Linked DNA regions of Homo sapiens. The protein of the gene in region 3 purifies or fractionates together with the protein of the main gene of each other region. This does not show direct contact. Each region holds a gene or a part of one and is shown on either strand. Other genes may lie near its edges.

What was found.
Region 1: the proteins of DNAI2 (region 3) and RAD51C purify together in Homo sapiens (affinity purification with mass spectrometry; one large-scale study listed by BioGRID and IntAct). This does not show direct contact.
Region 2: the proteins of DNAI2 (region 3) and MYO1D purify together in Homo sapiens (affinity purification with mass spectrometry; one large-scale study listed by BioGRID and IntAct). This does not show direct contact.
Region 4: the proteins of DNAI2 (region 3) and EIF2A purify together in Homo sapiens (affinity purification with mass spectrometry; one large-scale study listed by BioGRID and IntAct). This does not show direct contact.

What each region holds. Positions count from the first base shown.
Region 1 is NC_000017.11:58,702,602-58,706,101, reverse strand, and holds part of RAD51C (DNA repair protein RAD51 homolog 3), read right to left. Parts: intron 2,907-3,500; coding exon 2,773-2,906; intron 225-2,772; coding exon of another isoform or gene 210-224; exon of another isoform or gene 85-209; intron 1-84. UniProt on the Homo sapiens protein: Essential for the homologous recombination (HR) pathway of DNA repair. Involved in the homologous recombination repair (HRR) pathway of double-stranded DNA breaks arising during DNA replication or induced by DNA-damaging agents.
Region 2 is NC_000017.11:32,758,625-32,762,124, forward strand, and holds part of MYO1D (unconventional myosin-Id), read right to left. Parts: intron 2,004-3,500; coding exon 1,858-2,003; intron 1,781-1,857; coding exon 1,666-1,780; intron 1,503-1,665; coding exon of another isoform or gene 1,488-1,502; exon of another isoform or gene 1,188-1,487; intron 1-1,187. UniProt on the Homo sapiens protein: Unconventional myosin that functions as actin-based motor protein with ATPase activity. Plays a role in endosomal protein trafficking, and especially in the transfer of cargo proteins from early to recycling endosomes.
Region 3 is NC_000017.11:74,277,234-74,280,733, reverse strand, and holds part of DNAI2 (dynein axonemal intermediate chain 2), read right to left. Parts: intron 1-3,500. UniProt on the Homo sapiens protein: Part of the dynein complex of respiratory cilia.
Region 4 is NC_000003.12:150,553,287-150,556,786, reverse strand, and holds part of EIF2A (eukaryotic translation initiation factor 2A), read right to left. Parts: intron 1-3,500. UniProt on the Homo sapiens protein: Functions in the early steps of protein synthesis of a small number of specific mRNAs. Acts by directing the binding of methionyl-tRNAi to 40S ribosomal subunits.

The sequences.
Region 1 (3,500 bases), about 16 Mb from region 3:
TGCTAGGCACCCATAATCCTTTTGGGAATGTTCATCCTATGCATTTCCTACTATTGTATTTTGAAAGCATATAACTTGCCTGATTTCAAACGTTCACAGCTGGAAGGGAATTTCACTTCAGGATGAATTATAACTTGAGTCTCACCAATCTCTGATTTAGATAATATTTAGATGAAGCCTGGGACTTTTAGAGTTGATGATGGAACCGGTTAAGACGTTTGGGGCTGTGTGGATGGAATGGATACAAGAAAAACATGAATTTGGCGGGCAGGTAGGGGGTAGGGGGGCAAGGGGCCAGGGGCAAACTTCTGGGAACTCAATTATGTCCCCTTAAAATTCGTATGTTGAATCCCTAAACCCCAATGTGAATGTATGTGGAGAAAGGACTTCTAAGGAAGTAATCAAATAAGTTCATAAAGATGGGACCCTAATCTAAGATGATTAGCGTCCTTGTAAGAAGAAATATTAGGGGTCAGGCACGGTGGCTCACGCCTGTAATCCCAGCACTTTGGGAGGCCGAGGTGGGCGGATCACAAGATCAGGAGATCGAGAACATCTTGGCCAACATGGGGAAACCCTGTCTCTACTAAAAATACAAAAATTAGCCAGGCGTGGTGGCATGCGCCTGTAGTCCCAGCTACTCTGGAGGCTGAGGCAGGAGAATCGCTTGAATCCGGGAGGTGGAGGTTGTAGTGAGCTGAGATCACGCCATTGCACTCCAGCCTGGGTGACAAAAGCGAAACTCCACCCCCCCCCCAAAAAAAAGAAAAAACACCAGGGAATTCACTCTCTCCTTCTTTTCCTCCCTATCATATGAGGACACAGAGAAAAGATGGCTGTCTGCAAGCCAGGAAGAAAGCCCTTGCCAGAAACTGAATCAGCTAGAACTTTGATCTTGAACTTTTAGGCTCCAGAACTCTAAGAAAATTAATTTCTATTGTATTTATTTATTTAATTTTTATTTATTAATTTTGAGACAGAGTCTCTCTGTCTCCCAGGCTGGAGTGCAGTGTCACGATCTCAGCACACTGCAACCTCTGCTTCCCAGGTTCAAGCGATTCTCCTGTCTCAGCCTCCCAAGTAGCTGGGATCACAGGTGCATGCCAACACACCAGGCTAATTTTTGTATTTTTAGGTAGAGACGGGGTTTTGCCATGTTAGTCAGACTGGGCGACTCAAAAAAAAAATTAATTAATTAATTAAAATAAATAAAATAACAAAGAGATGGCATTTTCCATGCAGAATCTTGGCAAAAATATTCAAAAGGTCAGGATGATGGGTAATAGGCATTCTCATATATTGTCAGTAAGAGTAGAAATTGGTGCAGTCTTTCTGAAGGGCGATATGTGTTCAAGAAAAAATTATTCTAACACTTCTTAAAACAGTAAGGAGACTGTATTCAAGACTATTCTAATAGGGGTATCACAATAGGGGAGAGAGACTGGGTTCAAATCAGAATACAAGGACAACTGGGGATTCACAACCAAGAGCAAGGTGAAGGGGTCAGTGGATGAACAATTACTAACAGTGAGACATCAAGGGTAGGGAAATTCTTGCTAAACTGACCGAACAGGATTCTTACTAATGGCAGGCCAGCCAGGTGAGCAGCCTGGCCAACATGCAAAACCCTGTTTCTACCAAAAATATAAAAAAAAAAAAAAATTAGCCAGGCGTTGTGGCGCATGCCTGTAGTCCCAGCTACTTGGGAGGCTGAGGCAGGAGAATTGCCTTAACCCGGGAAGCAGAGGTTGCAGTGAACCAAGATCACGCCAATGCACTCCAGCCTGGGCGACAGAGCCAGACTCCATCAAATTAAAAAATAAAAAATAAATAAATAAAGGCAAGCCAAGGATTTAAATATCAAAGGTGGGGAATGAGGAACGTGATCAGGTATCAAAGGTGCTCAGACTATCAAATGTGAGAGAATCTCTCTGAACTGACAGCAGGATTCTTTGCTAAGACTGGACTGGGTAGGCCAAAGACAGGATGGGGCCAAGTTCAGTCAAGGAGAATCTTTGTCACTGATAATGTTTACCAAAATTAAAGGGCCAGGCACAGTGGCTCATGCCTATAATCCCAGCACTCTGGGAGGCTGAGGTGGGAGAATCGCTTAACCCCAGGAGTTGACTCCATTTCTACCCAAAAAAAAAAAAAAAAAAAAAAAAAAAGGTGATACATGATGGCACGGTAGCTCAATGTAGCCTTGAACTGCTGGGCTCAAGCAATCCTCCCACCTCAGGCCTGCTCCACCCAGCCCTTGGTAGCTGAGACTACAGCTACACCACACACGGCTAATTTTTTTTTTGGTGGGGACAATGTCTTACTATGTTGCCCAGGCTGGTTTTGAACTACTGGGCTCAAATGATCCTCCCACCATGGCCTCCCTAAGTGCTGGGATTACAAGTATGAGCCACTGCACCTGGCCAATAGTGATCACCTTTGGGGAGAGGCACTAGAAAACAGTAGCACAAGGAAGTTTTTATTTTTCATTTCATACCTTTCTATACAATGTGGTTTGATAGGAGCTATTCCACTATTACTGGAAATGAAACTTCTATATTATTTCAATTTCTTACTCTGAGCATAAACTATATATACATATACATACACAAAACAAATATAAATATAAATAAATTGTAGGTCAAGGAAGGAAGAGATTTTCTCAATTGGCTTTGACTTTGATTTTATGCTACTGTACTGGTTATTTTTTCATGCTTATCAAACACCTCAAAAAATACTTGGTTAGTTACATTTCAGTAGTCTGACTCATACCTTTGAGTGTTCTGAAAGGAAATCTGGAAGAAGATAAACTTGTGCCAGTAACTCTGTGTAGTCACGACAGCGAAAATAATAAATATGAGAAAGAATATTATCAAGAGTGAAATCCTCCAAAGCTTTTCGGTGTTCTGAAACAACAAAACACTCTTAATTAGTTTTACCTGTTTGGATGTATTGGCAATTGTAGAAAAACAATGCTTTTTAATAACAAAATGTTCTCCTTTGGATAACAAAATTCTTTAACTGAAAGATGACAAATTATAGCAAAATTACTATAAACAGTTCATAATTCCTGATCTTTTAATTAAAGTTCTAGGGTACATGTGCACAACGTGCAGGTTACATATGTATACATGTGCCATTTTGGTGTGCTGTACCCATTAACTCGTCATTTATATTAGGTATATCTCCTAATGCTATCCGTCGCCGCCCCCCACCTGATGTCTCTCTTAATCTGTTTAGAGATAAGGTCTCACTCTGACGCCCAGGCTGGAGCACAGTGGCACAATCATAGCTCGCTGCAACCTCGAATTCCTAGGCTCAAGGGATCCTCCTGCCCCAGCCTCCCAAAGCACTGGGATTACAGGCATAAACCACTGTGCCCAGCCACTTGATTTTTTTTTTTTTTTTTTAGATAAAGTCTCACTCTGTCACCCAGGCTGGAGTGCAGTGATGCGATCTTGGCACACTGCAACCTCTGCCTCCTGGGCTCAAGCGACTGT
Region 2 (3,500 bases), about 42 Mb from region 3:
GTACGTGTTAAAGCCAGGTGATGGGTATATAGGGTTTACTGTACTATAGTCTGTCTTCTTAATGTGTGTTTAAAATTTTCCATAATAAAAAATCTTTTAAAAAGAATCACTATGTTTAGAAGTTTGGGGTTTTACCCAGAATAGAGATTCTAATTGTGGGGGGATCTGCCATGTAGTAAGTAACTGTTACCTTGGAGTTAGCCTTCTGCTCCCTCTAGGACAAATAGTTCTTGGTTTATTTAGCGAAAATTTTTTGCATTTTGGGATTCTTAATTCTTTTTGAGATGTTTGGAACAGTCCACTGCATTACTTACCCTGTTGTCAATTATGTCTGTGAAATTTGATATTCTGATTGTGAAAGGATATTTTTGACTAGTACCTTGGAATCACATTTGAATAACAAGTTTTATGATTAAATTTGGTATTAAAAATCCAAGCTTCAGTTATACCGTGTATTATATTATACAACAGTTTCATTCTTAGAAAGCTTCATATACACTTAATTGAACTGAATTAAATTTTAATTGTATTAGGAGAGTTCATTATTTAAGTCAAACTATAGATAATTCTTATATAAAATAGCCCTTTGGTTTATATGCAGATAGGTAAAATTTATGCCAATATACCTGAGCAACTGTTTTATGGTATTCTAACGTTTAACACATGATGGAAGGCAGATACAATTTTGAGGCGGGAAAGCTATTTGTTATATCACTGTCTCTTTATTTCAGAATGAGAGGAAATAGAAAATAGGTAGGAAGGAAGATAAAAGTCATTTAAATATAGTATTTCAAATATTTTTTTGCTGCTATTATATTGGATAACAAAAAACAAATACTGGCTTCATTTCTATTCTCTGGCAAGAGGATGAACAATCATATAAACTCAAACTACAGAAACTTAAAAGTTTTTGTATTTTTCAAGTTTATTCTCAAAATTGCTTAAAAATACAAACTTACAAGAAAAATTACTATGTCTCATTTCTATCATAAACAGAAGGTCTTATCACAGGAAATTTAAAAACCAAACAAGTCATGCCTTTTAGCTTTGATCTCTGTGGTTTGCACTGTGCACCCATTATACTTTCCAGCTATATCTTACCAGATTAGTTTGCCTCTGACAAATACAAAAGTTCCCAAAGATTGATTAGAGTAGAGGTGATAATTGAAGTGTAATACACAAGAAAATGCAAAGTAAAACAAGTATTTTAATGTGTAGGTTTCAGAGAATATAAACAACATTAACTGAAGACAATAAAATACCATATAGTCTACAAAGTAGAAGAGGAGAAAAAGGAGGAAAAAGGGAAGAAGAAACTAGATTCTGAAGCAAAGTTCAGCCAATTTAAGGTATAACTTAATAAAGTATGCTAAACCTAACAGACAGATATAAACCAGTAAGTCCACGTGGTAGCAGCCATAAAGTGAAAACAGGTTTACTGGTTCTAACTCAGGATGTTCTGGGCATCAACAAGGCAGTCTATCAAATTATAGCAATCCCACCTAAAAATGATGAAATTAATTGTATTTACATATCCCAAAAAGGAAAGCTAAGGTTCAGATGTTTCAAATACCCCCAAAAGATCAAGAAATACCTAAAATAAAATTTGACATTATCAATAATATGAGAAACACATGAAGGCATTTTCCATAAGAGTCCACTCACATGTTTCCAGGGGATCCCTTCCCGCTGGTATTCCTCTTGTTCTTGCTTCAGAACCAGCTGAATAAATAGCTGCTGCAGTTTCTCATTGCAGTAATTGATACAGAATTGTTCAAAACTACAAGAAAAGGAATAAATTAAGTTTCAACAAATAGAAAACAGGCAACAAGGTTTTAAGTATCTTTTCCAGTTTACCTGTTGTTGTCAAAGATTTCAAAGCCATAGATATCCAAGACACCAATAACAGTGTTTTTCCCATGGATTGTGGTGTCATAGTTCTTGACCTCAATAATATCATTGATGCGAGTAACGATCCAACAAAAAAGGCGCTCATATATTGCCTGCAAGGAAAATAGCATCATAAATGCTTGCCAATTTGGGAATGAGTCCTCTGTTTGGATTTGTGATCAGTTTTAAATTCCTGTCCACCTTCTCACTGTTTAGCATAGCCATTACTGGCCTCAGCAGAACAAATGAAAATGTAGACTGTCCATTTAAAAAAACCCAAACTACCTGATGTATGCAAAACTAAAGTAAATAGCTTGTATTTTTAAAAGATTATTACCGGTCATTATACCAATTCCAACGACACTCTCCAGGCATGTTTCCCTGCCCGGCTATATCAATAGTTTGCCTGATCCCTTGAATAAGCCAGTTCATTGCTTTATTATTAATTTCATCAACTATAAAGAGTTGAGAGCTAGTGAGTTAATATCTATGATCCACTAAAGCTATATGAATTCTAAAAAATATAAATATTGATTTCTAATGCTAAATGAAGATCTGAGCCAAAGATCAAGGGTTGAAATTCCCTGAGAATCGAACACACATCCAATGCACAAGAACACACACACTAAGCCACACATGGACAAAGGTGCCACACGCTAACACACATTCACATCCCGATACACATGTGCTCTGCAACGTCACATCGTTAGAAAACCTTCCTTAACGTCTCCTGCCAGCTACCCACTCTCTTCACCCATATCCATTACCTCCCCTTTACTCTTCAATCCACTCCAGTCTCCACTTACATCCTATTACTCCATTGAAATGGCTCATCAAAGACTCCCAGCACCTCTACATAGATACTTCTCGTACCTCATATGGACATCTTGCTCTGTCGCTCAGCATCACTCAACCTAGGTTTTCACTGCCTTCTTGGAACACTCTTCTCTCTGGATTTCGGATAATAGCCTTTCTGAATTTTACTCTTTGTTCACTGGATGTTCCTTTTTGGTGACCTTTGGTAGAGTCTCCTCTTCTACCTGACTTGTAAAAGTTGGAGTTCTTCCTGGTCCTCTTCTCTTCACTCTCTAGCACCTTCTAAATCATCTCACCCAGGATTAAATAATACAAATATAATATGACTCCCAAAAGTATTATCCAAATCCAGACTCAGAGAACAGTCTCTGAGCTCCTGACTCAAGAGCTTGACTGTCTACCTGACACTGACTCTTCAATGGCTCACAGCCATCTCAAACTCAAAGGACTCTTGATCTTTCCTCTTCCAACAACTGTTCCTATCCTACTTTTAGCCACAAATAAATAGCACCACTTAGAAATTCACTGATTTATTCAACAAATATTTGCTGAATACTTATTATATATAGTTTGTTAGAGATACAGGTCTAGGCAAACACAAACATAGTCTCAATGTCCAAGAAACTTAGGGAATAGAGTGAAGGAAAAAATTATTCTCTCTGTCTCTCTCACTTGCCCCCCACCTCGCAGATAAACATCCACACTAAAGGAGAGGTACATGGGGTCTTAGGGAAATTTAATCTATGCAGTGCTCAGGAAGGTTAGGGAAGGCCTCTCTGGGAAAGTGATACTTG
Region 3 (3,500 bases):
TAAATTCCCTGCCATGCTGGGCATGAAACACACAGGACACAGATTTGAGACCCCTGGGCCTCTTCTTGAACCCCTCCTCTCCAACCCAATGACCCAACTCCCCACCCAATTGTCCAAAAGGCTCGTTGGTTGCCAGACTCTGGCCTCCACCACTGTCTGGGTACCATCCTGGAAATCTCTTCTCTCCAACCAGGACAGAGCTGAGAGTCAATCCCAGACAGAGAGAAAGCCAGGGGCTTCCCCAACAGGCGGGACATGGAGGCCTTTGGGAAAGCCTCTGACGCGTGCTACTGGTCATGGGACACAGCAGGGAATTGGGAAGTGGGCTGGGCTCGGCCCTGATTTCAAGTTCTGGGCCTCCCGTCACCAGCTGCGTGACCTAGGCAGGGCCACTTAGTCTTTCTGAGACCTGACACACCCACAGGATGCTGAGAAGTGAAATGAAAGTGCTCCAGCAGCATCAGAGGCGGGGTTCACAGGCCACGCAAGGAAGGGTTTCTCACTGATGCTGATTAGAAGTTGTAAAAATGCAATGGGCTGGGCCATTCCCACATATTGCCCTTGACCTTTCTGACTCCCCCATGACATCACTAGACTCCACTGGGTCTGAGGGCTTTCTCAATGAGTTCAGTGGTTGGCGCTTTGACCTGTGTACCTGCCATATCACACCATGGAATTAGCAGAGATTTCCGTCTGCCAGCCACCTGCACTTTCAGAAATTGTGCCTTTGATAGCAAGTTTCCAGGGGCTCAGATTGAGGATCTGTGCAAGGCTCCTGGGGTTGCACAGAGCCTTAGGACAAAAGATGTGGATGAGTGGCTGGTGCTGGTGGGAGGAAGATAAACTGAAGGAGAGCTTGCCTTGGTAGATTTACAACCAAAGGCCTTTCAACGCCCAAGAGATTAGGCCGGGCATTGTGGCTCATGCCTATAATCCCAGCACTTTGGGTGGCCGAGGCCGGTGGATCACTTGAGGTCAGGAGTTCAAGACCAGCCTGGCCAACATGGCGAAAACCCATCTCTACTAAAAATACCAAAAATTATCCAGGCATGGTGGCACGTGCCTGTAATCACAGCTACTCAGGAGGCTGAGGTAGGAGAATCGCTTAAACCTGGAAGGTAGACGTTGCAGTGAGTCGAGATTGTGCCACTGCACTCCAGCCTGGATGACAGAGCAAGACTCTATCTCAAAAACAGGATTACGTGAGCAGGTTTGCCTGTGAGCAGGTTTTGCTATTTTTTTTTAATTTTTAATTTTTGTGGTTACATAGTAGGTGTATATATTTATGGGGCACAGGAGATGTTTTGCTATAGGCATGCAATATACAATATACAATCATGGGAAATGGGGTATCCATCCATCCCCTCAAGCATTTATCCTTTGTGTTACAAACAATCCAGTTATACTCTTTCAGCTATTTTTAAATGTATAATTAAATTATTTTGACTATAGTCACCCTGTTGTGCTATCAAATACTAGATATTAATAGTCACATCATGGAGAATGGGGTATCCATCCCCTCAAGAATTTATCCTTTGTTAGTTATTTTTATTTATTTATTTATTTTGAGACGGAGTCTCCCTCTGTCACCCAGGCTGGAGTGCAGTGGCACGATCTCAGCTCACTGCAAGCTCCGCCTCCCGGGTTCACGCCATTCTTCTGCCTCAGCCTCCCAAGTAGCTGGGACTACAGGTGCCCACCACCACACCCGGCTAATTTTTTGTATTTTTAGTAGAGATGGGGTTTCACCGTGTTAGCCAGGATGGTCTCGATCTCCTGACCTCATGATCCACCCACCTTGGCCTCCCAAAATGCTGGGATTACAGGCGTGAGCCACCGCGCCCGGCCTGTTAGTTATTTTTAAATGTACAATTAAGTTATTGCTGACTGTTGTCACCTTGTTGTCCTATCAAATAGTAGGTCTTATTCATTCTTTCTTTTCTTTTCTTTCTTTTTTTTTGAGATGGAATCTCATTTTGTTACCCATGCTGGAGTGGAGTGGCATATCTGCTCACTGCAACCTCCGCCTCCTGCGTTCAAGTGGTTCTCCTGCTTCAGCCTCCAGAGTAGCTGGGATTACAGGTATGCGCCACCATGCCCGGCCAACAATGTTAACAAAAAGAGAAGCCACAGACTTGGATAAAATATCTGCAAATTATCTATTTGATAAAGAACTTGCATCCAGAATATGTAAAGACTGACCAGGTTGCAAGCACTATGAACAACAGTTTCCAGGCGTGCTTCCTGCATGCCCAGCACCACTCCCAAAGAGTGATCACAATTCTCACTAACATTTCTTTTTATGAGACAGTGTCTTGCTCTGTCATCCAGGCTGGAGTGCAGTGGCATGAACACAGCTTGCTGCAGCCTCAACCTCCCAGGCTCAAGCAATCCTCCCACCTCAGCCTTCTGAGTAACTGGGACCACAGGCAGACACTACCACATCAGACTAATTTTTTTTTTTTTGTAGAGTTGAGGGTCTCACTATGTTGCCCAGGCTTGTCTCAAACTCCTGGGCTCAAGTGATCCTCCTGCCTCAGCCTCCCAAAGTGCTGGGATTATAGGCATGAGCCCATTTTCGAGATGAAGAAACTGAGGCCTGGAGAGATGAAGTATTAATACAGGGCCAAAGGTCACAGTTCTTCAGTTCAGGCAGAACCACCAGGCATGTCTGGCTCTAAAGCAGTGATTGTTAGTCCTGACTGCACATTTAGAAACACCTGCAGGGCTTTGTGAAATCACAATGCTGTTTGAACCCCAGAACAACTACATCAGAATCTCTCATCAGTATATGCTTTTTTTCTTTAATTCTCCAGGCAATTCCATGTGTAGCCAACTTTGAGGACCATTGATTTAAAGTGAGGGAACTTAATCTCTCAACCAGCGTTTCTGAAACCTGGGATCTTCCTTAAAAATACACAGACTCCCAGGCCTCTCTCCTGCAAATGCTGAACTAGATGCCTGGGGCAGGGCCTAGCAATTCGTGTTTTTCACAATCACCCTAGGTGAACATGACTACCAGACCTGTGTCTTACCTACCCTCTCCCGCCTCCAGGGCTACAAGGCACCAGACCAGTGGGTCCTGGCCGCTGGCCCCTGAGAGGCAGGGCAGGAGCTGTGTGCCCCTAGAAGCATGTGCCAGGGGGAACTTGGGCCCTGGAGCAGCTGGGGCAGCAGGTGGGGAGAAGGAGGGTAGGAAGGTTAACCCTTTGCATCCATATACATTGTGTCTTGAAGACAGTACCACCCCATCCCACTCCTAGCCCCAGAGCAACTCAACCTTAACCAGACTGTTGCAGAAAGTGGCATTTTCTTTCTTTTTTTCTTTTTTCTTTTTTTTTTTTTTTTTGAGATGGATTCTCGCTCTGTCGTCCAGGCTGGAGTGCAGTGGCAAGATCTAGGCTCATTGCAAACTCCGTCTCCCGGGTGCAAGCGATTCTCCTGCCTCAGCCTCCCGTAGCTGGGATTACAGGCACATGCCACCATTCGCGGCTAATTTT
Region 4 (3,500 bases), on a different chromosome or scaffold from region 3:
ATTATTTTCTTGGTCTTGGCAATTGGGAAATTTTGCCTCTTTCCTTCTGGTATAATTTTTTGAATGAAAAATTTCAAACATACACAAAAAATAGAGAAAAAGTATGATAATCCACCTATGCACTCATCATCAAGCTTAAGTAACTATTAACTCAGAGCCAATTTTATCTATTCCCCACTTTTATCTTTCATGCCACAACATTCCAACGCAAAAACTAGATGTCATTATCATATTGCTCTATACTTGATTATGCATCTCTAACCAGTGAGTATATTTTTTTAAAAACATAATCACCACCATGCCACTTCATCTCACAAAATTAACTTCTTAATATCATTTAATACCCAATACTTGGATTGGATATCTGGGTTTTTTAACAGCTCCCCAGGTCATTCTATTGTGCAGCCACATTTGAGAACTACTCATGTAAAAGACTGACTAAATTCTGAGTTTGAAGTTTTTTTAACTTTCGTAGAAGATATGTACAGCACAGTTCCTACTGTATAATAACTCACCAGGAGACACATAAATATCTCTCTGTTCTACTCTTAGTGATACTGAGATTGTACTGGATTCAGTCATGTGCCTCCTTGTATCTACCTAACTCTTCCTGCTGCCACGCCTCAACTATTCAATGAAGAGACCTCATCTCCTAACGCCACTGGTTGTCTTTGAATCTGCAGAGTTAAGGGCCATACTTCCACATGGCTTCCACCATGCACTGCGGCAGCACATGGAGGAGCTCTGGCACTCAGATTCAACCCAAACAGGCTAAGAGGCTGTAGTAAACTTCTTACCCTGTCTCCACACAACAGACTGTTCTGAAGTACAAATGTTCCATACAGCCTTTCTGGAGACAAAAATTTTGCACACATGACCAAGCAAGTTGGCTATATTTTGTGGATTTGTGGTCACCTCAGTATATCCCATCATACTTGCTTTAACTCCTTCCCTGTCTCATTTCCCTTTCTCCCCTACTCCTGCAGCCTTGGGACTGCATACCCTAATGAAGTGTAGCACATAACTTTGCCATAGTTTTTTTTTTGTTTTTTGTTTTTTAAATAGATATGGGGTTTTGCCATACTGCCCAGGCTCATCCTGAACTCCTGGGCTCAAGTGATCCACCCACCTTGGCCTCCCAAAGCGCTGGGATTACAGGCATGAGCCACCGCGCCCAGCCAGACTGGGTTTTCTAGAGTAGTGCTTCTCAAACATTAATGTGCATACATGGCCGGGTGTGGTGGCTCACACCTGTAATCCCAGCACTTTGGGAGGCCAAGGAGGGTGAATCACCTGAGGTCAGAAGTTCGAGACCAGCCTGGCCAACATGGTGAAACCACGTCTCTACTAAAAATAAAAAAATTTAGCCAGGTGTGGTAGCAGGTGCCTATAATCCCAGCTACTTGGGAGGCTGAGGCAGGAGAATCGCTTGAACCCAGGAAGCAGAGGTTGCAGTGAGCCGAGATTGTACCATTGCACTCCAGCCTGGGCAACAAGAGTGAAACTCCATCTCAAAAAAAATAAATAAATAAGTAAATAAATAAATAATGTGCATACAGGCCAGGCATGGTGGCTGAGGCCTGTAATCCCAGCACTTTGGGAGGCCAAGGCGGTTGGATCTCTTGAGCCCAGGAGTTGGAGAGCAGCCTGGGCAACATAGTGAGACCCCCATCTCTACAAAACATACAAAAATTAGCCAGGCATGGTGGCATGCGCCTATAGTCCCAGCTACTTGGGATACTGAGGCAGGAGTATTGTTTGAGCCTGGGAGATTGAGGCTACAGTGGGCCATGATTACACCACTCCATTCTAGCCTGGGCAGCAGAGCAAGACTCTGGAAAAAAAAAAGTGCATATAAATCATCTGAAGATCTAGCTAAAATACAGATTCTGATTCAGTAAGTTGGGTAGGGCCTGAGATGCATTTCTGTACTGGCTCAGGAGTGATGCCAATATAGTTGGTCTTGGTTGGGCCCATGCTTCCTGTAGCAAGGTTCTAGAGAACTGGGCCTAATAAAAATTGGTCAGTAGAGTCAGATGACAACAGCCTGATTATAAAGTTCCCCATTAACAGTCATCAAACAGTTCAGCTAAAGGTTTCAGCATCTTTTGATGATCATCTGCCTAGATCAGTGGTTCTTAAAGGGGGGTCCCCAGATTTGCAGCATCAGTATCACTGGGGAATTTGTTAAAAATGCAAATTATTGGGCCCTACCGCTGATCTAATGAATCCGAACATTTGGAAAGAGAGCTGCAATCTGGATTTTAACGAGCTTTTCAGATGATTCTGATGCTTGGTAAAGTTTGAGAACCAGTGGCCTAGATCCATTTCTTGAGGATTACAAAATGGTAATTGTCTGATCCAGCATCCATTCTCCATTTATTAACTGGAATTCGTCTATAAAATTCTTTTTCTCATCAACCACTTGGTTACTCTGAGAAACAGTTTGTATAAGAAAGGCAAGATAAATGCTTGACTCCTTCCCTTTATTTATCAATTTTCAAAGTAATGAGTGAGGACTCCATCAACCACCAATGCTGACCAGTTAGGTTTAAACGGAGGGGGGATTTTTCGGGGGAGCATTTATATACTTGACATGCTTTATCTTTCTATTCATAATTCTTAATGTTCCCATCTTAGGTTGGTGTGAATCTCTTCAAGTTGCTTCCTACGACCCTTTAACAAAATCTCATTAGTCTTTTATAGCTTTGCTTTCTGGCACAAAAGTTGCTACCTCAACTTGTACATTTTCTGTCCCAGACCTAGAGTTGACCACTTCTCCAAGGAAGTGGTTCCTTTTAGTGAAGAATTGTATTTAGAGATCACAATCTGTGAGGATGGGGTATTCACTGCTACTGTGTTATCACTGCTTCCAGGCCTTTTCATTGGCCAGAACTAGGAAATGCAAATGTTTTATGAAAGGAAATCATGAGTTCATACTGATATAGGCAAGTCTATCTTTTCACTCTAATGCTGAAAAATCTTGGTGCCTAACAACATTAATACAATTAATTTACTCTATCCTATAGTAGATTCAAATGACAATATCAACTTTCAGTTAAAAAGAAAACTATTAGGCCAGGCATGGTGGCTCACGTCTGTAATCCCAGCACTTTGGGAGGATGAGACAGGTGGATCACCTGAGGTCAGGAGTTTGAGACTAGCCTGGCCAACACGGTGAAACTCTGTCACTACTACAAATACAAAAAAATTAGCCAGGCATGGTGGCAGGCACCTGTAATCCCACCTACTTGGGAGGCTGAGGCAGGAGAATCGCTTGAACCTGGGGGGCAGAGGTTGCATTAAGCCGAGATTGCACCACTGCACTCTAGCCTGGGCAACAAGGGCAAAACTCAGTCTCAAAAAAAAAGAATTTTGCAGGTCTTCACATGGTTATGCCACCAACCTGATATAAAGCTAGAATCACTTATTTTAGTTTCCCAATTTTTTTTTTTTTTTTTTTTGAGACGGAGTCTCATCTTTTTGCCCAGGCTGGAGTG